3 separate regions of the Homo sapiens genome follow, and regions 1 and 3 are each linked to region 2. The links come from fine-mapping of genetic effects on gene expression. A gene starts in region 2. Each other region holds a variant in brackets. All regions are shown on one strand. Distances are between the middles of the regions.

Region 1 (8,186 bases), 24 kb before region 2:
GATTTCCTGACCTCGTGATCCGCCTGCCTCGGCCTCCCAAAGTGCTGGGATTACAGGCGTGAGCCACTGCGCCTGGCCTATTTTTTGGTTAACTTCTACAGGAAACAAACATTTTTGAGTCAACTTCTATAGGAAACCTTTACCAACCACTTCCAACAATTACTCTGTCCTTTTGCAGCCTCTGTACTTTTGTTGTCTTCGTCGCATGCATTTTTTTTTTAATTTCAGTCTTCCTGCAACACTGTAAGTTTTATAAAAGCAGGTTTATACATCTGTAACTCTGAATCTTCAGTGCCTAGAATATTACCTGGCACATGGTGGTGCTCAATATTTGTTGTATTGAATTAAATTCCCAAGTACTATACATCTAATTCTCAATTATCTTTCATAACAGTGATATTATCCAAAACAAGCATTCCTAGAGTTTTTAACATGACTTTAGTAATCCACAAAGTACATAAATTGCACATATGATAGCTGATAAATTTTGACACATTAATAAATTAAAGGTTGGCAGCACAATGCAAAGTACATAGTTAGGTGCTCAGTAAACAATGAATGAGCATGGTTGAGTATGGTTGACTGATTTGAGGTCTTAAAAAGTATCCTACTCAGAGAGAAGGATAAAATATTTTAGAAATCTTTTGACATACCATCACAAGAAGAAAACGACCATGATAAATTGTAATACACTCATTCATTCAAGTAATGTTTATTGAGAACTAATGGAGTGCTGGCTATGTTTGGCAAAACTACTTTCCAATTTGATGTAAATATAACATTGTGTCACATCATAATATCCAAGCACTCGGAAAACATGAAAGTTTTGTAGATTTGGGAAGCCCAAATCTACAGAAAAAGTTGGATGATCCCAACTCTGTGCTATTTTGTTTCCGCCTGTGTCATAACATCTATTCCACTGAATCGTAATTTATCCCTCTGCATATGTCTGGCTTTCCCACTAGATGGTGAACCTTGGTCACCTTTATTATTCCCATCATGTTGCATATAGAAAGCTCTAAAGAACACTGGATAAATGAATTAATGAACAATTACAGTTCCCCGCATCAAGCAACGACTCAAAAATATATTTAGTAAAGTACAACAGAAAAAAAAAAGTCAATGCATTACCTTTCAGGGGTCATAATCTTCCCACCACTCTCACTTCGTTCAAACTTTTCCAGCAAGCTGACATTTGTCACTTTGGCAGGGAACAAAGCTTGTCTATCTCGAAGTCTTTTGGGTGATGAGATATCTGTAGAATAAAGAATGAATGAAAACGAGTCTCCTTTCAACTCTCAAACCACTAACTGTGTAGTTTTTACCAAGGGAAATTTTCATATAAGATACACTCTCTTATCTTTAAATAATCACCCCTTGTTCTATTGTGGTATAAAAAAATGTTTTTGCTGTATATTCGCAAAGAAAGCACTGTGCTAAGCATTTAGAGGACAAAAAGAGGCAATAACATAAATGCAGGAAGTGGGCTGGATATAACATGACCAGGAGACGTGTTAGTTTAGTTAACATTTCTCATGAAAAATGAACAGTGGTAGTTTTACAACTTTGATATCTGTAGATTTAGACATTTTGCCTGTAAAGATCTTTCGATAGATATAGTTGAAGAGAAAAATAAGATACAAACAAAAAAGTGAGAGCTCCCATTTGGAGGTCATCTTATGTGCTAACAGTGCTAAGTGCTTTATAATATACATTTAATAAATAACAACTTAGGACAGTGATGCAAAATGTATAAGTCACAAATAAATGTTGCAGTCTTTTTCTTTTTTTTTTTTTTTTTTGAGATGGAGTCTGACTCTGTCGCCCAGGCTGGAGTGCAGTAACCCAATCTCAGCTCATTGCAACTTCTGCCTCCCAGGTTCTAGCAATTCTCCCACCTCAGCCTCCCAAGTAGCTGGAATAACAGGTGCACACCACTACTCCCAGCTAACTTTTTTTTTTTTGTAGTAGTAGTAGAGATGGGGTTTCGCCATGTCGGCCAGGCTGGCTTCGAACTCCTGACCTCAGGTGATCCACCCACCTCAGCCTCCCAAAGTGCTGGGATTACAGGCGTGAGCCACCATGCCCAGCCAAATGTTGTAGTCTTTAAGGATCTGATATGTTCAGAGGAGAGAAGCCACTTCAGAATTCAGTGATAAGTTTTCATGGAGAAAGTGAGATGTGAAAAGGGTACTAAAAGGTGAGTAGGATGGAGATAGATTGAAAGAAAAGGAAGGACAATTCAGGCTGCAGGAAAAAAAAAATGAACAAAAGGATGAAGTTGGGGAAGGGCAGGCATGTTAGAAGAGCATGAATAGGCCAAGCATAGTGGCTCACGCCTGTAATCCCAACACTTTGGGAGGCCGAGGTGGGCAGATCGTTTGAGCTCAGGAGTTCAAAACCAGCCTAGGCGACATGGCAAAACCCTGTTTCTACAAAAAGTACAAAAATTAGCCAGGCATGGTGGCGCACACCTGTGGTCCTAGCTACTCAGGAGGCTGAGGTGGGAGGATCACCTGAGCCCAAGAGGTTGAGGCTGCAGTGAGCCAAGACAGTGCACTCCACCCTGGGTGACAGAGCAAGACCCCACCTCAAAGAAAAAGAAGAACATGAATAGATAATTTTTCCCAAAAAAGGGGTCTCTATAGGGCACAGTGGGAGATGAGACTAGAGAAATAAAAGCATATGAATATTAGGCTAAAAGTTGATATGCAATCCTGTAGGCCACACGTAGAAAACAGACATGCACAAGCCAATGTTCACCCATTGGTATGTTTTGTTTGGCCTAATTAGCATTTTTTGTTTCAATATCAACAAAAGTCGTCAACTTTTAACAGCCAATAGATTTTACATTAAAGTCAGGATCTCTGCTTCTTTTGAAAAATCAGAAGATTGTGCTCACTTTAGTAGCACATATAGTAAAATTAGAAAAATTAGAAGATCTGATATCACTTGGGCCACATTTCCGCAAAGCAACAATCTGCTAGAGGAACAGTCCTCAAAGTGTGGCCTGGCAAGCCATACTTTTTGGGGTCCCTAGGACCCTTTCAAAATGTCTGTGGCTGCGTGTGGTGGCTCCCACCTGTAATTGTAGCACTCTGGGAGGCCAAGGCAGGCGGATCACCTGAAGTCAGGAGTTTGAGACCAGCCTGGCCAATACGGTGAAACCCCATCTCTACTAAAAATACAAAAATTAGCTGGGCGTGGTGGTGCGCGCCTGTAGTCCCAGCTACTTCCAGGGAGGCTGATGCAGGAGAATAGCTTGGACGCAGGAGAATCACCTGAACCCAGGAGGCGGAGGTTGCAGTGAGCCCAGATTGTGCCACTGAACTCCAGCCTGAGTGACAGAGCGAGACTCCATCTCAAAAAGAAAATAAAAAGTCTTTGGTTAAAAAAAAAAAAAATCTTTGGAGTCCTAGGATTTTCTTCATTTGCTTCCACCAAAACAACCTATCACAACAGATTAGATGCAGACATAGGTATGAGAATCCAGCTTTCTTCTACAGACATCAAAGTGATAAAACTGCCACTCTTTGTTTTTCATTAGAAATGTTAACTAAGCTAACATGTCTCCAACCCACTTACATCCAGACCACTTCCTGCATTTGCGTTACCTGCCTGCAGTCATCTGAGTTTTGGCCCCTTTGAGCAATGGGGAGCCAGCAAAGAGATGATGATCTAAGAGCCTGAGAGTCATAGGATCTAAGGCTCATAAAGTAAGTAAGCTCATAATTAAGGTCAAATGCAGGATTCTAGGAATAGAACGTATTTGTTAGAAATAATATAGTGATTATTTGTGGCTGGGTGCGGTGGTTCATGCCTGTAATCCCAGCACTTTGGATGGCCTAGGTGGGCGGATCACTTCAGGCCAGGAGTTTGAGACCAGCCTGGCCCATCTATACAAAAGATAAAGAAATTAACCAGGCATGGTGGCACATGATGGTAATCTCAGCTGCTCGGGAGGCTGAGGCAGGAGAGTCGCTTGAACCTGGGAGGTGGAAGTTGCAGTGAGCTGAGATTATGCCACTGCACTACAGCCTGGGCAACAGCGAGACTCCATCTCAAAAAAAAAAGTAATAATAATATAGTGATTATTTGTAAATTTAACTTTATTTACCTTGGGCTAAGCAATATGGCTGGGCTCATAGCAGTAAAGAGTGACAGATTGGACCCAGAAATCATTGGCCTACCTCTGGTGCCTTCTTCTTTGTCTGACTGGTCTTTTAACTTGCACTTCCTTTCTCTATTCTCTCCACATTCTTCTACAAGGGTCTCCATAGGCAGTTTGTTTTCCATCTCCTTGAGCTCAATCCTAGGAATGAGCCAATATGTTTTTCTGCTGCACTGAACCTGAACAGGTAACTGTGTGAACTCTCAAGTTTTGGAAGCAACCCAGCCAGCTGGCTGATTCTGAAATAAGCCCACTTTCTTCAAGGGGTGAGTGCTCTGATGTGCTAAGTACATATCATAGATTAATTTTCTCCAAGGCTTTCTGGAAGCTGACCAAGGCCTTTCCCTCTATACCATAGTCTCAAAGCAGCTTGCATATAGAGAAATTGCCTTAAAGTCCTTTATTTAGGTTATTGGTTTTTGTTTCAATTTGAATTTTTATATCCTACTTCTTTAACTAGATGCTATGGGGTGATACAGTGGAAAAAAGGTTGTTGGATAGCTTGAAGGCAAAGATTCATAGCCTGGTAGAGTATGCCCCAAAATAACCATTTGTCTCCTCCCTCCTTTGCCACTTCACTTCATCATTCTCTCCCCAGGCAAAAGTGAAGGACTTGCAAAGCTACAATTTGCAGCAGGGAGGAAGGGGGATGTTCAGTTGGTGTGTGTAGTTGTAGGATTTCTTTGGCCTCAGGTATGGAGTACTAGGTTGGAGTAGGGAGTGGGGGTGGGGGTACCTTCAGTCAATTCAGGGGCCAAATGTCACATAAATAAAACACCAACAATTGTTTTGAGTATTTAAGTCCCCATGTCCATTTCTAGGCCCTTGACTTGATGGCGACTCCATCTCTGTTCTTTGACCCACTATAATTATTTCCCTCCTGGAGTGCCTAAGCCAAAATATGTCAAAGGGAACAGCCATGTTTGCCTTCCGAAACCATCAAAATAAAATTCTTTTCAATCCACTGATTTATTTTTAGTGAGTAAGGCAATA[T/C]GGTGCAATGGAAAGAACACTGGACCAGGAGCCATGGTTTTATTTCTATAAGCTTGGCTGCTTATTAGTTGCATGGCCATTTCGTGTGCAAGATGAGGCGGTTGGAAAACAACCTCTAAGGCTTACTCTGGACTTCACACTGAATCTTCTGAGGTATGTGTCATACAGCTCTTCCAGGAGGGGGTTGTTCCAAAGCAACAAACAAGAGAATGTCACACTCAAAACATCTCAGAAATTCTCATACTTTTATACTTTACTCATACTTCCTAAAGTAATAATGCTTTAGGAAGCTAGTTGTTATTCCCCAAACTTCCTCCACCTGAAATGCACAGTGGTTAATGGCACAGCAATTAAGATTATTAACATAATTAAGGGCACACAATGAATAAGTGATGGCCAAACTGGAAATAAAACTAAAGTCTCCTGACTCCTACTCCAGTGTTCTCAATAGTGCACCATGTTGCTTCATTCATGTAAAAGAAAAAAATTAAAATTAATTTTGTATCATGATAAAATGGAGAATTATAATACATAAGTCACATGGTTGTCGTGAAGATTAAATACAGTAATATGCAACCACCAGTAACAACCACTGTGCTCATGGAGTAAAGCTGTTTCCTTATTCTAACTTATCTGTTTAACCCGTTTAGTGGTAAAAATCCGAGCAAGGACAGGAAATGGGCTGAACTGAAGGAAGAAGCAGCAGCTAGGGCAGAAGAAGTGGTACAAAGTAGTGGAAAGTTCAGCAGGTGAGAAGAGTTTTACTAATACTGCAGGGACTAAGGTTAATGGAAGGTAGTATCAGAATTTCCAGGAGCCAAGGGTAGTTTTAAAAAAGAGTAAATGGGCCAGGCCTGGTGGCTCACGCCTGTAATTTCAGCACTTTGGGAGGCCGAGGCGGATGGATCACTTGAGACCAGGAGTTCGAGACCAGCCTGGCCTATATGGTGAAACCTCATCTCTACTAAAAGTACAAAAATTAGCCAGGCATGGTGGCGTGCGCCTGTAATCTCAGCTACTCCAAAGGCTGAGGCAGGAGAGAATTGCTTGAACCCAGGAGACCGAGGTTGCAGTGAGCAGAGATCGTGCCACTGCACTCCAGCCTGGGTGACAGAGCAAGACTCCGTCGCGGTGAGGGGGGATAAAAAAGAATAAATGTCCATTGTTATTTAACTTAACTACAGAAAGTGTATGCAATAAACTCTTCTTTGTTGGTGGATTTAGAGAGGGAGAGACAGACAGAATACATTAAAAGGAACATGAGCTACAAAACATTGAGAAACACTGCCCAATGAGATCAGCAGATCAGCAAGGAGTGCTAGTGCCTAGAGGAACCCGTGAAGCAAAGCACTCACCTTGGAAACGCAAGCACACTGCTGGGCCACTTCCTCAAGGCCTCTCTGCTAGACAACACCGAGTCCACAGTGCCAGGCCTCTAGAGGACAGCAACAGAGCAAGGTTACATCTAGGCTGAGGTCCAGGACTCAGACAAATTAAAAACTGCAGGCTCATAGGCAAGGCTACCACGATACTTTTCTTGTTGTTGTTTATGTTAAGCGCTTATAAGTCCAGAGCTTAAAAATCCAATGAGGAATGATCTCATTCATCAGAGCAATCACCCTGGGTAGCTGCACAGCAATTCTTTCGGTGTTGCCTTTTCTCAAACCATTTCCTTTTAGGGAATTGCCTTCAGAGTTGACAGATTCTTTTAGATGTCTTTAAGAAGATAGCAGACTTTGTAAAAATATCTGGAAAGTGAGCAAGCTGTCTAATTCCACTCTTGACCCAAATAACTAAAATTAGGCAATTAAGAGAAAAGCTTTCGAGTCAGGTGGGCTCATGTTCAAATCCCCACACTGCTAACAGGCATGTGGCCTTAGGCACTAGGTTTCTGGGGATAATAAAAGGATCTAATAGCACTTCCATGAGGTCCTCTATGTAAGTAGCTAGCACATAGTAAATACTGAACAAATGACTATTTTAATTCTCATGTAACTGTAAACATAATAGTCACATTGTCACATTTTAACTGTAGAATAATATATAAAATTATTATTTTTGCATGAATGCTATCACTTACAAAAGCCTTTGAAGTGAATTCCCAAAAAGAAGTATAGAAAATATTTCTAATAAAAGCAGCATTACTGAAATAAGCACACAGCTTTCCAAGGGGACTACCCTACAAGACAGTTTTAAGTTACGGGTCATTTGGGAATAAACTCTCACTCACACCACTTCACAGCAGTTTTCCAAAATGTGTCTTACAGAGCTAATGAGATATTGGATTAACCTACAATTCCATGATTAAATACATTCAGGCAGTTAAACTGACTGCTTTCCAGCCAGACTTCTCAGCTCCTTTAACATGCTGATGTGCTCTGTCCCTCTGTCCATGAGGGTGACTGATTCGATCAGCAGTTTTCAGTCAGCTTTGACCTCCAAACCCTTTTTTCATAGAGTATTTTTCAGGACTAGTTCTTTTGGAAAACGTTCTGTAAAAGATGTGCTTTACAGTTCAGCAGGTCAAGGAAAATGCTGTCTTCTCTTTTAAACACGTATTGAAGCTACAAAGTTCAGCAGAATCCCTGAGGGTTAGAGATGAGCTAGCCACTTTGGCCTTGCTTATGGACTTGCAAATCTTGCCTTGTGTTTTCATGGAAAAGCAAGGGTTTTTCCTGCATGTGTTTCCCACTTTCCACACACAGGGTTGGCAATCCTCTTAGCAATCCTGTATGAAACCAGATTGTGTAGAAAACACCAGGAGTTTCATTATGCACAACTTCATTTCCTAAATCCCCATCCCAAAGCTTCATAAAAGGAGAAATGGGTAGACTGAGATGATATTAATAGCCTTTTCATTAAAAAAATCAGAGTTTGGCTTTATGGGATATAGGATTATATAACATTCCATAATAATTCAATTCATTCATGTCTACTTTGTTAGTTTCCAGAGGAGTACCTGAGGCACACTAAGTATTCAGTAAGTCTGGTAGATTGACTATTTCATTTGTTTAAACTCTGC
Region 2 (8,186 bases):
ACAAAAGAACAGACAAATAGATTAAAAGGACACAAAAGAGAGCCCAGGAATAGACCCATATAAATACAGTCAACTTATCTTTGACAAAGAGGCAAAGGCAATACAATGGAGCAGATAGTCTTTTAAACAAACATTGCTAGAACAACTGGACATCCACATGCAAAAAAAAAAAAAAAAAAAAAAGAACCTAGGCACAGACCTTACACCTTTCACAAAAATTAACTTAAAATGGATCATAGACCTAAATATGAAGTGCAAAACCACAGAACTCCTAGAAGATAACATAGGACAAAACTTAGATGATCTTGGGTATAGCAATGACTTTTTAGATAAAACACCAAAGGCATAATCCAAGCAAGAAATAATAAGATGGACTTCATTAAAATTTAAAACTTCTGCTCTGTGAAAAACAATGTCAAGAGAATGAGAAGACAAGCCACAGACTGGGAAAAAATATTTGCAAAAGACACTGTCATGCAAAATATACAAATAACTCTTAAAAACACAAAGAAAAGAAAAACTCAATTTAAAAATGAGCCAAAGCCCTTTATATATATCTCATCAAAAAATGACAAGCATATTAAAAGGTGCTCCCCATTATTTATCATCAGGAAAATGCAAAATAAAACAATGAGATACCAATACACCATCTATTAGAATGACCAAAATCTAAAATACTGACAACAACAAATGCTGACAATAACATGGAGTGACAAGAATTCTCATTCATCGCTCTTGGGAATGCAACATAGTACAGCCCCTTTGGAAGACAGTCTGGCAGTTTCTCACAAAACTAAACATCCTCTTACCATACAATCTAGCGATTATGTCCCTGGGTATTTACCCAAGTGAATTGAAAACTTATATCCAGTTTTTTAAAACCTGCACACAGATATTTAAAACAGCTTTATTCATAATTGCCAAAACTTGGAAGCAACCAAGACATTTTTCAGTGGGTGGACAGATTAAAAAAAAAAAACCTGTGGTACATCTAGATAATGGAATATTATTCAGAACTAAAAAGAAATGAGCTATCAAGCCACAAAAAGACATGGAGGAATATTAAATGCATATTGCTAAGTGAAAGAAGCCAATCTGAAAAGGCTTAAACTATATGATTCCAACTATATTACATTCTGGAACTGGCAAAACTATGAAGACCGTGGAAAGATCAGTGGTTTCCAGATTTTGGGATTAGGGGTAGGGGTGAATAGGCAGAACAAAGGGGAGTGAAATACTCTATATGACTATAATGATAGATACATGTCATTTTACATTTGTCCAAACTCATAAAATGTACAACACCAAGAAAGAACTCTAATGTAAACTATGAAACTTGGGTGATTTTGATGTGTCAATGTAGGTTCAATTGTAACACATGTACCACTCCGGTGAGGGATGTTGACAATGGGAGAGTCTATCCAAGTGTAGGATTAGACAGTATGTGGGACATCTCTGTCTGATATGGTTAGGCTTTGTTTCCCCACCCAAATCTCATCTTGAATTGTAATCCCTAGGTGTTGAGGGAGAGGCCTGGTGGGAGGGGATTGGATCCTGGGAGCAGTTTCCCCCATGCTGTTCTCATGATGGTGAGGGATTTCTCACAAGATCTGAGAGTTTTATAAATGGCAGTTTCCCCTGGTCCCCCGGGCTTCTCTCTCTCTCTCTCTCCTGCCGTCATGTAAGACATGCCTGCTTCCCCTTCTGCCATGATTTTAAGTTTCCTGAGGGCTCCCCCAGCCATGAAGAACTGTGAGTCAATTAAACCTCTTTCCTTTATAATGACCCAGTCTGGGATAGTATCTTCATAGCAGTGTACAAATAAACTAATATATTGTCCCTCCTTCTTAATTTACTGTGAATCTACAACTACCCTAAAAAATCATCTTTAAAAAAAGTTCTTACTGTACCATTTACCTCCTCCCTGGTATCATTTACCTAAATTGTAAATTTGCATTGATTTGTGTGATTATTTGATTAATGTGCATCTTCCCCACTAAACAGTAAATTCCAAGATGTTTGTTCACCGTAAGTTAACTAGTGCTCAGCATATAGCAGGGTTTCAGAATTCCTTGAATGACTATACATAAATTTACAAATATAGCAAATGTTTTTAAATTCATTAAGCCATTATCTTCAATGCATCTTTCAGGATGATTTGAGAGGAAAAGATAGGAGTGATGCAGGGGAAGAGAAAGAAGCAGCCATTCCTATTTGTTTTCTGCGGTCATTTGGTTAAAGCCTAAGCAACATCTCTAAGTTACAATGGTTTGATAATAATGAGTTTGCATTCCTGCAGCACCTCTCTTCTCCTGTGGTTTGCAGACAGATCTCAGCCTCACTTTGGGGTGACTCTTCTACAAACGATGCTAAAAACAGATCTTGTCTTGCTACTAACCAAGCCTAATGAGTTTTCTCTGAGAAGGTGCCAGGTCCCCTTCCAAAGTACTTACCCTGTAGCTTTTTATGATCATCTCATTTTCTTAATACAACGGCATGATGTCAAAGGCAACAAAATCAACCGTCTTTGCATGAACTCTCAAAAGGAGCCATTTAGGGTCCCTGCATCTCTTTTCTCTAGGTAGGCAAAAGGGTTGTGATCCATCCCAGCGAGTGGTGTGGGAGTGGCTGTTTTTACCTAACCTTTATTGAGCACTTACTTTGTGCTAGTCCGTTTATTGAGCACTTACTTTGTGCTGTCTACGCATCCCCTGGTTTAATCAAAACCAGAAAAGGGTCTCTGGGCGTCCAACGTGGGCAGGATGTGATTACCAGCTGGTTGTCAAGGCAACTTAGCCACGGCAGGCCAGGCCTGAGCCAGGGAATTGGGAAGTGGGTCCCCCCGCCTCCCCTGCAAGCAGATGAAGATTCAATCCCCAGGGCCACCCCCTGCTACCCAACACGCTTACCCTCCTGGCTCAGCGAGGGCAGAGTGGGCAGCACCTGCCTGCCCAGGTCCTGCAGGGCACGGGCGATCGTATCCAACATCTCCAATTTCCAGGTGACTCCGTACTGAATGTTCGATGGGTCTCTTCTTTCTTATATGGAATGTGCACAAAAATAATTTTCCCACCCTCCAGCCCCTTCTCCACGGAGCTTTGGATGTGCCTTAAAAATAAGAGTGACGAAAATCTTGAACTTCTTGACTCTTTTTCTTCTTTCTTAAATAAACTTAAACATTGGTTCTCGCCGTCCCTCCCCACTGCTCTGGCTCTCGGGCAGCTCCCACAGCAAGAGCCGCAGGAACTGATGTCCGGCACCGAGTGAGAGTGTGCAGACCCGCGCCCTCCTGACCAACGAGAGACCCAATGAGGGGTGAGCTGCAGCCTCGAGGAAGGGAGGGGCACCAGGGAGAATAGGCCCGGCAGAGGGAAGGGCGCGTTGCTGGGACGCGAGAAAGGCTCGCTCGGTTGCTAAGGCGTCAAGGCTGGGATTCGACCTCACCCCCTTAGATGGGCGGCTTCCAGGTTGCCCAGGCGATTCAGAAGCTCGAGGCAGCGAGGTTGGAAGTAACTTAAAAATAAATAAATAATGGGTTTTTACTTCTCTGACCCCGGGCAGCGAAGAAACGTGGTTAGAGTGGTAGTTTTTGTACCTTGGACAAATCTAGGAATGCCTTTTGCCCAGAGAGATCGATATTTGAGTCTCCAGATCTGTTTGAGAGTTTGAGTTTGAGCTGGAATTTGTTTCTTGGTTTGCTTTTCCCTGGGCTCTCTTCCTAGGAAATGGAGAGCTGGAGAAGTGGGGAGGAGGGAATTGACTTTTTTTAAACTACAGTCATTTCCCCCTTTTCTCTACATGTCACCAATCTCATCCTGAAGAATTGCGTGCATGCTCTCCCCTCTGCTGGTAATTATCACAAGCTGAACATACCTATGCAAAACCCATCCAGGTCAAAAAATAGAATGCTAGCACATTGCACAGATCAGCACTTCATTACCCCTCCAGTCATTAGCCAACACATACTGCAGATTCATTTTGCCTGTTGAATCTTTGGAATCATATAGTATGTATCCTTTTCTGTCTGGCTCTATTCAAATTCACATTATGTTTATGAGGTTCATCCATAGTTTCTATGGTAATAATTTCTTCATTTACACTGTTGCATATTATTCCTTTTTATGAGTATGGCACAATTTATGCATTCCACTGTTGAAGGGCATTTGCGTTGTTTCCCTTTGAGGCTACTGGGAATAAGGCTGCTGCAAACAGTCTCACAGAACACTTTTGACAGATAGATGTACTCATTTCTGATGTGTATATAACTAGGAGTAGATTCATGGGTCATGAGAAATGCATATGATCAATTTTAATAGATAATGCCAGCTAATTTTTAGTGGCAATATCAGCATTATTGTTCCACATTAAGATAATGGAATTATAAAAATAATTGTTTTACAATACATTAGATTTTGAATTAAATATAGTGGTACTTTTAATCTCTAGAAAAGCTGTCTTCAGTTCCAGAAGATGGTGGTGGATGCTAATTATTAGTGAATTGTAGATGGCTAAAGGAAGCTGTAAAAAGAATAAGGACAAAGACTTTTCTTCCAAGGTTTTACTTTCCTTTTGTCAAAGGTCTCTTGACAAAAGAGGCTGTGTAGATACATGTAACCCTGTGTTGACTAGAAACTTTTAATGAGCTATAAATATTATATATCCTGAAAATACATACTTTTCAGTTGCTATTAAAACTCAGGCAAACTATGTACTTCCACTGCTACAAATTTGGATATATTTGGATATAAAATTGGATGTATTAGCATGATACATACAAAGATATATGTATATGCAACATTGTTTATAATGTTAATTCTTAGAATTAGCCTAAGATGACCATCATAGGGAACTGGTTAAATTGTGAATACATACATTGGAATACATTTCAAGAGTTTACTTAAAAGGAAACTGCACATTTACGTGCTGATGTTGAAAAAGTTTCAAAATATAGTAAGTGAAAACCAGTAGCAGCATAGTATTTTTATATAATGTAATCCTGTTTCCTTCAAATATAAGTATATAAGTATGCATACGTATTCATATATATTTTTGTAAACATATGGGATATTTGAGGAAAGATACATACACAAAAATATTAACAGTGGAATTTTGGATCAGGCAAAATTTTGTATGGTGGAGGAGGCATTCCAAGAACTTTTATATTCACTTTTCTCCTTTATTTACTGTTTAACAAGGGCATGAATTACTTTATAATATTTAAGATAATTTACCAAAGAGAGGAAGAGAGAGAGGTACAGGTAGAGTGTAGGGATTTATGCAAACACTGAAGGAAACAAACAGGGCCAAAATGTTCCCAAGTATTTCAATGTACATTTACTTTTCTGCAAGCTCCAACTTGCCTTGCAAAACCCACATTGAATGGGCAGTCATTTTTACCCAAGCCCCAAGGCACACACAATATTAAGTGGCTTATATTAAAGGCAACTTGGAAAAAAAAACTATTGAAAAAGAAAACATAATACTCATTATACAACACCAGAATAGAAATTTGCAATAAATAATTTAACCACATCTATTGAGTACCTAATTTGTGCCAAGCACTTTGCTAGTTGCTAAAAGGAATACAGACACTTAACCAGAAAACCCCTACAGATAAGAAGTTCACAATTCATTTTTCACCATTTTAACAAATATTTATTGCAGGAGGTTCTAAAATCAGGATTGGGTTTCAAAGTTAAAGTGTAAATTGAAAATTGGATGTGGGAAAACTACTCCAGGAATCCCTTCTTAGGAAGGGACCATATCAGAGACCCACATATGCCATCTCTCAGTTTATAGACCCAATGCAGTCTTTCTCTCCTCACACTGGAGCAGATCACTTTCTTCAGGAGAGATGTAATGAAACAGTTGGCTAGAGTTTAGGAAAGCAGTCTTATTCTAAAAATTCAACCAAATAGAATTGTATGTACTCAACACTGTGCCATGCTTACACTATGATACACACTCATGAACTGAGACAGATTGAAAATATAGCAGATGTATATCTTCTGTCCCTTGCTTACTCAAGGATTTATGCAGAAACAGACTTGCGGTAGCTTCATAGACTGTGAACTTAGCCAAGATAGAACTACATTTTCCAGAATTCCCTTTCCTATATGATTCTAGGTTAGGGTTAGTCAAAAGAGAATGTGTGTGAGATTTGGAAGGCAGAAGTAAAGCAGCAGCCATGTGATCTGAAGCCCTAAAGGTCATTGTAGGGCCAGGCACTGACCTGCTGGCTCACCGTGTAGGCATGGGCCAGCAGCCTGGCCTGCAGCTTTGCAGCTCCTGCCAGATCTCCTCATTCTGCTTCTCTCAATCTTAGACCAGGTACATGTGCAGCAGTGTTGCCAAAGGTACTACCTAATCCTATAAGTCCCTCACATCACTGAGGTTGGACGCAAGGAAATACAGATGCAGGTTGCAATTTGTCCTCACAGGATCTAGTTTGCCTGTGTGTAACCGCCCAATGGGTTCATCTTGCCTACTGCCCAAATGAAGCTGATTTATCAAGATGGGGGAATTGCAATAGAGAAAGAGTTTAATACAGGCAGAGCTGGCTAAATGGAAGACTGGAGTCTTATTATTACTCAGATCAGCCTCCTTGAAAATTCAGAGGCTAGGGTTTTTTAGTTTGGTGGAAAAGGAGCTAGGGAATGGGGAATGCCGATTGGTTGGGTCAAGTGATGAAATCATAGGAAGTTGAAGCTGTCGTTTTGTGCTGAGTCAGTTCCTGGTGGAGGCCACAAGACCAGATGAGCCAGTTTTTCTGTCTGGAATGTGCCAGCTAACCCATCAGAATGCTGGGTCAGAAAAATCGGCTCAAACACCAATCTTAGGTTTTACAATAGTAATGTTATCTATAGAGGCAATTGGGGAAGTTAGCAATCTTGTGGCCTCTGGCTGCATGACTCCTAGGCCATGGTTTCTGAGCTTGTGGCTAATTTGTTGGTTTTACAAAGAACAATCTTGTCCCCATGCAAGAAGGGAGTTTGTTTCAGGGAGGGGCTGTTATCATCTTTGTTTCAAAGTTAAACTATAAATTCCTCCCAAAGTTAGTTCAGCCTATGCCCGGGAACGAACAAGGGCAGCTTGGAGGTTAGAAGCAAGATGGAGTTGGTTAGGACAGATTTCTTTTACTGCCATAATTTTCCTATGTCAGATTTTTCTCAGTGTCATAATTTTTGCAAAGGCGGTTTCACTTGTAGGTTCCAGATTGTTCTCACCAGTTCCAATCTTTCCTTATTCTTCCCCATTTCATGACCATCTTTTCTTCCTATTAGCCTTGCTGTCTTTAGGCCCTACACCAGACACAGAGGCCAACACCAGACAGAGATGACTTAACCAGCTCTTACAACTATGTAAGGGCTAGTGCTCATAATAAATTTTATATTTTCTATCACTCTTACAGGTTCTGCTTCTCTGATTGAACCTGAATGATACAGAACTGGTAGATAAAACTAAAGTATTTCAATTTAAAGTATTCTCTTTAAGTTTTACTTAGACTTGAATTCACATAAATTATGTATTTGTGCACTGCAACTGTATTGTAAAGATTTATCTTAGTCTGTTTTGTGTTGTTGTAAAGGACTACCGGAGAGACTGAGTAATTTATAAAGAAAACATATTTATTTGGTTCACAGTTAAGAATGGCTGGAAGGTTCAAGATTGGGTATCTGCATCTGGTGGAGGCCTCAGGCTGCTTCCATTCATGGCAAAAGGCCAAGGCAAAGGGGAGCCAGCTGTGCAGAGATCACTTGGTGACAGAGGAAACAAAAGACGGGTAAGGGAGATGCCAGGCTCTTTTTAACAGCCAGCTCTGAGGAATTAATAGAGTGAGCACTCACTCCCTACCGAGGGAGGTCATATATCTCTATTCATGGGTTTCGCCCCCATGACCAAAACACCTCCCATTAAGCCTCATCTCCAATATTGGGCCAGGATCAAATTTCAGCATGAGGTTTGGAGGGGACATCAAACCGTAGCATATGTTAAATGTCATGTTTGAGGCATGAAGACAGTGTAATGGGAATTCAAGGGGAGGAAGATTATATCTCTGTTAGGCCATTCTTGCATGGCTATAAAGAAATACCTGAGACTGGGTAATTTATTTTAAAAAGAGGTTTAATTGGCTCATGTTTCTGCAGGCTGTACAAGCATGGTGCTGGCATCTGCCCAGCTTCTGG
Region 3 (8,186 bases), 80 kb before region 2:
CAACTCCTTTAACTTTGTCAAATCTGACTATTAAAAGCAGAAACTACATTTTCAGCATGTCCTTTTGTGCTATTTCCTGAAGCTACAACCTCAAGTACTCAGTTTGCAGGAAATGTAATTATGGAAATCTCCCTCTGGAAAAAAAAACTTCTTTTTCTTTTACCATGAATAGGAACAACCTGCCACACTTTCAGCTGCCCATGGCATTTATGGGCACAAGTCATGTTCCAGCACATCCCTGGACCCATGGGCTTCTCAGAGTGGTTACCTCGAAACAGCTAAGTAGCTTCCTTTCCAGTTTTAAACCCCTAGTGCATAGCCCAAGAGCACCCCAAAAATGCAGGTTAATGATGGAGATAACTTTATTTGCCAAATTTTGTAATTTGGAGCTTAAGAACCACTGTTTTTCCTCTTGAGTTCTGGCCTGTACCAAGTGCAGAAATAGCTTCCCAAAGGAAAAAAATGGGCAACAGTACCAAATGCTGCTGAGAGGTCAAGAAAGAAGAAGGCTGAGAACTGATTACTGAATTTGGCCACCTGGAGGTACTTGGGGACCCTGACAAGAGGTGGGTCAGTCATTTGATTGGACTGGGTTTCATGGGGACCAAGGAGGAAGGAACTAGATGCAGTTAATATATTCAGCTCTCTAGAAGAGTTTGCCTATAAAGGAGAGTAAGAAATAGGGTGGGACATATAGGACCAAGGGAGGGCCTTTTAAAGATGGAAGTTTTACAGTGTATTTGTATGCTGATGAGAATGATCCAGTAGAGAGGGCAAAATTGAATATGCAGGAAATAGGAGTGGGAATAATGGGACAAGTAGGCAAAAATGATGGGATCCATTAGACAAGTGGTGCTTTAGCTAGAAGCAGGGAGGCATCGATGGTAACAGGGGGAAAAGCAAGTACTTGGACATTGGAGGCAGAGGGTCTGAAGACTTGGTGGTGAAAGGATTCAGAAGTTCTGTCCTGATTAGTTCCATTTCCCTTGAGCGTCACTCTCCACTTTTAAGGGCAAAAAATAGGAGCACAGTAGTCCCTACTTCATGGAGTTGTTGGGAAGATTAATTGAGCAAATCCTGTGCTGGTAAGCACACAGCACAGAGCCAAGGCCACAGTAAGAGTGATCAATAAATGGCAGCTGACCTTGCATCCTTTTATTGTAATGTGTGACTCTTTCCCATCAGATTTCCCATTGTTCTGAGCTCCCCTCCCCTTCCAGAGGTACAGCTGAATGTTGACATCTACTGCCTAAGTTCACTTCCCTCTGCCTCTGCTACCACCCTGCTCCGTCCTTCCCCAGAGAAACCCCATAACACCTCTCCTGCTGCCTTCAACTATAGTCAGGAAGGGCTGTCTGAGCAGCAGAGATCATGAAGGGATGGAAGCAAACCTGGGAAGGAAACCCCCAGGTTTCCTTGCTTTGGGTGACTGACAGGGCCAAGCCACCTTTCTCTGTCAATTTCCTCATCTGTACAACTGTTAAATGCCATGATCTCCAATCCCCATCCAGCACCGAATTTCTGTGAGGAAGCCCAGTTATTCAACCTGCAAATAACCCCAGAAGACGGTTGACACCCAAAAAGAAAAAGACCCATCCAGAGTGTAGTGTCTGCGGGATCATCTCTGATGGAATACCTTTGGCGCCATCTGGTGGCAAATGCTTTGCGCAACCCCTCCTTTCAGGGAGGCAAAAGGCTGTCCTGAAACAGACTCCGATGAGCAGAAAACTCCCGCTAGCCAATGGCAGGAAACTAGTACCTCACCTAGAGAGGCCATCTAGTTCAGTGCATCTCAAACTGGAATGGCATACAAATCATCTGGAGATCTTTTTAAATACAAATTCTGACTCCGTAGAACTGAAATGAAAGAGAGTTTTATGGGCGGAGAGTAAGAAGTATGGAGTTACTTGGAGGGAGGCAGAGAAAATAGGGAGTGCCACATAATAAGTGGACTTTGGAGAAAATTAAGGACAAAGGGGATTTGGGGATTTCAGAAGAGGGTCATACAATGCAATTCTCCTCGCCCTTTCTTTAAGTGATTTAAATACTTATTTAAACTGCTTGTTGATACTTCCTTGGATGTCAGCTTGGTGTTTCTTTTGAATGCAGTACAGTGCTGAGCCTGACCATGATATAGTCCAGCTTCATTCAGGTTAGATAAAAAAGTAGATATGGGAAAAGGAGGCATGGTTAAGGATGCCTGGGGTAGCAAGGAATGTCTTGCTGATCATTTGGGCAGTCTTAAGGAATAATGAACTGCAAAATGGTCTTCTAGATAGGTAGAATAGCAGGGGAAATGTACCTAAGTATAAACATGCATGATATGTGTAGGGAACAATGAATAAAGCTACTGGTACATGGAGTACACGGGGAGGCACTGCAGAGGTAGGTTGATACTGATAACATACTTTTCTGTACATAAACTAACAAAAAGTATGTCATGAACAACTGTTTTATAAAAGCCATCACACTTGTAATCATTTAGTAATTTCTTTCCTTACAAACAGAAATGAGCTTGGTCTATTTTGTTACCATGGTATCCTCAGTACCTGAGCCTGGTTCATAATTGATGCTCAAAAAATAAATGAATGTAACAATTTCCAGTGATCTCTGACTACCCACTGTGTTCTACTGTTTTGTGCCCAAGTTTTAGTAAACTGGGAGTTCTCTGATGGCAGGGATCATGTTTGATTCATCTGTCTTCGACAGTGCCTAGCATGGTGCCTGTCACTTTGTAGGCCCTCAGAGGGTGCACACTGTGTACTTTGCAGACCATGGGAAGGATGTTAGGAAGTCCCAGTATCCTTAGCCCTGTCTCTGTGACACTGCCAACAGTTCAGCACTCCCTCTAGGCCACAGCTGTGTGAAGACAGGGGTGCCTGCACCCCATCTTCTGAGAAGTATGATCCTGCATAGAGTCCCGCCTTCTGATGTCCACAATGATGAATGTGCACTTATTGGCCACCAACTGTTTGCTGTACCCCCTATCTCAGCCACTGAGCCAAGTATAAATCTAGGAGAAGGCCCACCCTAGAGCTAGCTAAAAATAAGCCACCTGGAAAACTAGAAACAGAGAATATAGAAAATTCACTCATACTCCCACCCTGCAACCATTAGTATTTTGTAAGTTCCTTCTGGATTCTATGTGTGTGATAAATGTATACTATTTAATGTTCTCTTCCTTCCAGCCAACTCAATGGAACATAGGTTAGTGCTTAAGCACACAGGCCCTAGAGCTTGATTCCCTGGATTCACATCCTGGCTCTGTTATATGATCTTGTACAATTCAGCAAACCATACCTTATTTTCCCAATCTGTAAAATGAGGATGGCAATAATGAGGATTAAATGAATAACTGTCTTCATGTTAAGACATATAAAGTACTTGGAACAATATCTGATGTTAGTGACTAGCTTCACAGCATTTTCCATGTTGCTGCATAATATTCATGATGATCATTTTTAATAGCTATAAAACAGTCTACTGTGTCTACACTGGCTACTTTACTTAATCATTACTCCTTTGTTAGATGTGTAGGTTATTTCCAGGCATTCTGTATTATAAATAACACTGTCATAAACATCCTAGTATATACATTTTGGACTTTTCTATATAGAGATTCTCAAAAGTAGAAGTATAAGGTCAAAGGGCAAAAATATTTTATGCCTTTGCTCTAGATGGGGAAACAGTTCTCACTAAAGATTGTAGCACTTTAAAACACAAAGTATATTGGAACATTTTACTTTTCATTCCTTCCTCACCAGCCATAGATGACAACAATTTTTTAAATTATCCAAATGTAGTAAGCCATAAATAGTCCTACTTT[C/A]ATTTCCTTTTGCTTTGTTTTGTTTTGGTTTCACCATCGTGGAGTGTTGCTGATTGTGATTACTTTATTGTGAGCTCTCTGTATCAGAGTCTATACCACTTGCTTTAATAGAGAACACTTAATATTTTTTAAAATGTTAATTGTCTATTAAAGAATTCAAAAGCCAAAAAAGAAACACTAAGGATCTGCTACAACTTCTGAGGCTAAGGGAACAAAGGAAAGAGGAGGTGGCAGTTAGTGGCGTTGGTGTCACTGAGTGGCAGCTATGAGACTAGTTCTCTCAGTGACAGCCAAACTGCAAACCGGGTTCAACTTCTGCTTCAGGAACAAACTGCTGCCATGGAGTTGAAGAACTAAGGCTGTGGGGCTGCCAGATTTAGCAAAACCAAAATGCAGGACACTCAGTTAAATTTTGGTGTTAGAAACAAATAATTTTTAGTGTATTTATGCTCATATTGCATAGGACATACTTATACTTAAAAAAATCTTGTTGTTTATCTAAAATTCAAATTTTACAAAGTGTCCTACATTTTACCTTGCAATCCTAACAAGATGGATGATGCTGGGGTGGTGGGGGGGAAGCATATTATCCCCCTCATCTAGCCTTTGTCTCCCTCTAGCACCTACTATTGGCAGAGCCCAGCATAGAGCAAGTTGGCAAAGCTGAAAAGTGGTTTGCAGACAAAGCAGTGTAAAGAAGCTAATAAACAATTACCCAATAATTGGTACAGTCCATCCTTCTGGCTACCCAGCATCCATATACACTGTCTGGCACATGTGTACTTCCACACAACAAAAACAACTCTGGCCAGGTGTGGTGGCTAACGCCTGTAATCCCAGCACTTTCGGAGGTCAAGGCAGGCAGATCACCTGAGGTCAGGAGTTCGAGACCAGCCTGGCCAACACGCCAAAACGTTGTCTCTACTAAAAATACAAAAAATTAGCTGGGCATGGTGGTGGGTGCCTGTAATCCCAGCTACTCAGGAGGCTGAGCCAGGAGAATTGCCTGAATCCAGGAGGCAGAGGTTGCAGTGAGCCGAGATCACACCATTGCACTCCAGCCTGGGCGACCGAGTGAGATTCTGTCTGAAATTAAAAACAAAAACAAAAACAAAAACAAAACCTCTAACAAAATGCCTCACAACATTCAACTATTTTTCCAACAAATGAAGACATTCTCACCTTTTCTCCAACATGGGGATAGACAATGTCCCAACAGACATTTTAGTCATCTCTGGAAGACAGTCACTGTATCCACCTCTAAGCAGAATTAATAGCTCATAAAATTCAGTCACATTTGAAAACTCTGTTATCTAAAGACTAACATGTGGAATTAACCTCCAACAGAACTTATATAAAATAATAGGGAGGAGAAGGGAGAAGAAATTAGCCCATGTGTACCATTATATATAGTCACATTATGATCAAGGAAGAAAAATATGCCTGGCTGCTACATTCCTTGTTTCTGTAACCAGTCATGAAGTCAAAGATGATTTTTATAAATTTCTTCCTCAACCTTCCATTCCATGTTTTCTTGCCCTCAGACAGGACCTCAGGTGGCTGGGATTCTTTACCCAGTAGAGTGACCCAAACCTTCATTTCTGAAGGATCTGAATCCTCCATAGTCCTGAATATCCTTACTTGCAATATATTTATTAATATTTACTATTGAGCATAGAAATATGAAGATACGCCCCTAGAAGACTCCCCTAAGCTTCAGACATAGTCCTCCCTGTCCTCACTGTCCCTTTGATTATCAGGATGAATCACAACAGCCAGAAAAGTAATCCCCTTCTTTGCCCACTGATTTAGTGGCATGAAGAGCCCCAGCTGGCCAGGGAGCTGTTTCAACTCCAAATTCAATAGAACCATGTTGTAAATCCTAATGGAAGTATTTCCTTCTTGGCAACTAAGACCTCCAATCCAGTAGAGCACAAAATTAAAGAGACAGGAAGCAAAAATTCTGTACGTGGGTTATTAGGTGAAATGGTAAGAGGAGCCACTCCCATTTCCACCCCACGATTTCTAGACCCATACATTTTGGCTATGAGAGAAAAACACAATGTCTTGCTTGCTAAGTCATAATACATTGCATCCCATAAAACAGAAGCTCATTATCTCCATAAGGTGTTGCTTCTACTTAAGTCTTAGGTAATTCTTCAGTAGGCCATTCTACTGATCTACTAAGCCAGCTGCTCCTGAGTGGTTGAGTACATGTTAAGACCAGTGAATTTCATAGGCATGAGCATATTGCTGCCCATCTTTTACTGTGAATTAAAGTCCTTGATTAAAAGCCTTGCTGTCTGTAATATATCTGGATGGCAAATAGGTATTCCAAACATCCATAGATGATGGTGCTGGCAGAAGCATTACAGACGAGGAAAGAAATCCATATCCAGAATGTATATCTGCTCCAGTTAGGACAGATTTCTTTCCTGTCCATGATGGGAGTAATCCATTGCAATCATCTTGCCACCAGGTGGATGGTCCCCCCCAGGGAATGGTGCCCATAAGGAGCTCAGCATTGTTCTCTGTGTTTGACAGGTTAATCATTCAACAGTAACAGTATCAGGCCAGCTTGGTAAGAGGAAGCCCATGCATAGCCTCCATCCTTACCACCATGGCTGTTTTATGCATAAGTCCGTTAAGCAAACCCTGGGTGACTAAAGAAAGATGCTGTCTAACATACATAGGTCATGCCATTTTGTCCACCTGATTATTGAAAGACTGTTTTCATCATGTCCTTTGATAAACTCTCACATGGGGCACAAATATCCTCTTACTCTGTACCTATCCCAAGAGGTCCATCCACCTACCTTTTCCCCAGACCTCCTTATCACCAGTCTTGCTATTTTGTTCTTTCCAAGTCCCTGATCATCCAGCTAAACCATTAGCAACTGCTCATGAATCAATGTAGTGCTAACCATCCCCTGGACCAAAGTATACAACTAAATTTACCACTTGAAGTCATGTCCACTGTCCTTCACCATTACCTTTTATTGGGGCTGTGAAGCTGCCACCTTACACTTCTAGTTGGTGCCAACATTTATTCACAACAACTTGTAAACCAAGCCCAAGTTTTTTCTCCTTGGTCAGCTGCTCTTAAGGAATCCCCAGTGAGGCCTTAGATGTGGATTCAGGGAGAAGAAGTCATGTAGCAGTGGCTCAAATGAATCTGAGCCACCTACTTATACAACTTACTTGTCCCTTCCAGACATACTCAAGCCATTTGACGATGGTGTGCGACCAGACACAGCCAACCTTATGACTTGGTAGATAAGATGGGCAGCTCAGGCCATATGGTCATTTAATGCCTCATGGTCAGGTTGTGTTCTCATTTTTTTAAATGTTTTTATCCATTTAGCCCTTATATAATTCTATGAGGCTCATGCTTCTTTTTGTCTTCCATTATATTTATCCTTGTCATTTTCTTTATGAATGATGATGGTAGCAGCACCTGGCTATCTGATCCCATCTTATGGGGTCAAGTAACAAATCAGGAGCTGTTTCTCAACTTCAACAACAAAAAAGTTATCTGCAAAAGAGAGCATGGATTTGCACCAAAACTTGCATGCCTACAGGGCATAAGGGCTAAGAAAAGTTGCCTGTTCCTCCACAGTCCCAGATGTGGGGAACTCTGCCAAGGGTCTTCTCTTGGGAGCTGGCGGCCTGTGGCCAGAGGTTGATCTCAGGCCACTCTGTTTCAGGCACAGCCTCCGTTGCTGTGGCAGGGATCTTGGCTGCTCTGCGAATCACCAAGAACAAGCTTTCCAATCACGTGTTTGTTTTCCAAGGTGCAGGCGAGGTATGTGGCATTGAGGGTTTCTTTGGTTGCTCCAGGAAGAGAATAAGAATGGGTGGAAGCATACCAAAAAAGGGAGGCATTCTGGGGTTCTGAAAAGAGGAAGCAGCACAGACATATTGTGATCATTGCAGCTGCCTAGGCTCTGACAATTGGGTGTCTCAAGGCAAGGACTTAATTGGGCCTCCTGGGAGTCATTGAGGTGGGGGAAAGAAAAGGGGGTCCTTATGGCAAGACATCAGATAAATGTTCAGCAGCTGTTTGCCCTGTGTCTGAACATCTACCCTATGGTACCTTCCAGGCAGCTATGGGCATTGCCCACCTCCTTGTCATGGCCCTAGAGAAAGAAGGTGTACCGAAGGCAGAGGCCACAAGAAAGATCTGGATGGTGGACTCTAAAGGGCTCATTGTCAAGGTACTGTCAGTCTGGAGACCTGGAGGTTTCCTGACACCTTATAGCTCCCAGGAACTGGACTGGAAGAGGTCTCCAAGAAGTCAACTGCTCAAACAGAATAGAGAGCAAAATGAGGGCAATGGCCTAAGCTCCAAAGCAAAAGA

Direction of the effects. Positions count from the first base shown, and alleles are read on the strand shown. Sizes are in standard deviations (SD) of each study's normalised expression.
As copies of C replace T in region 1, the expression in tibial artery of the gene that starts at base 3,265 in region 2 goes up (small effect, 0.28 SD a copy in GTEx).
For the expression in monocytes after interferon gamma of the gene that starts at base 3,265 in region 2, allele A in region 3 goes with a lower level than allele C (large effect, 1.0 SD a copy in Fairfax 2014).

The links. PIP is the estimated chance that this variant, and not a neighbour inherited with it, causes the effect.
Region 1: its variant is fine-mapped to the expression of CCDC81 in tibial artery (GTEx, PIP above 0.99). The same link has a PIP of 0.9 or more in skeletal muscle.
Region 3: its variant is fine-mapped to the expression of CCDC81 in monocytes after interferon gamma (Fairfax 2014, PIP 0.95).

What each region holds. Positions count from the first base shown.
Region 1 is chr11:86,393,747-86,401,932 of GRCh38, reverse strand. It overlaps CCDC81 (coiled-coil domain containing 81), which reads right to left. Exons shown (of 15, transcript NM_001156474.2): 5 at 6,520-6,599; 6 at 4,191-4,312; 7 at 1,132-1,255. It overlaps LOC105369421 (a long non-coding RNA gene), which reads left to right and starts at 5,833. Exons shown (of 5, transcript XR_007062826.1): 1 at 5,833-5,913. The variant T/C (reference allele first, on the strand shown) is at 5,165.
Region 2 is chr11:86,369,966-86,378,151 of GRCh38, reverse strand. It overlaps CCDC81 (coiled-coil domain containing 81), which reads right to left and starts at 3,265. Exons shown (of 15, transcript NM_001156474.2): 1 at 2,910-3,265. The coding sequence starts at 2,988. The region is part of intron 2 of LOC105369421 (a long non-coding RNA gene); the gene reads left to right. RefSeq lists a silencer at 3,231-3,525.
Region 3 is chr11:86,449,746-86,457,931 of GRCh38, reverse strand. It overlaps ME3 (malic enzyme 3), which reads left to right. Exons shown (of 15, transcript NM_001161586.3): 9 at 7,534-7,631; 10 at 7,930-8,043. Among named protein-coding and RNA genes, the nearest start is that of CCDC81, 79 kb to the right of the region's middle. The variant C/A (reference allele first, on the strand shown) is at 3,827.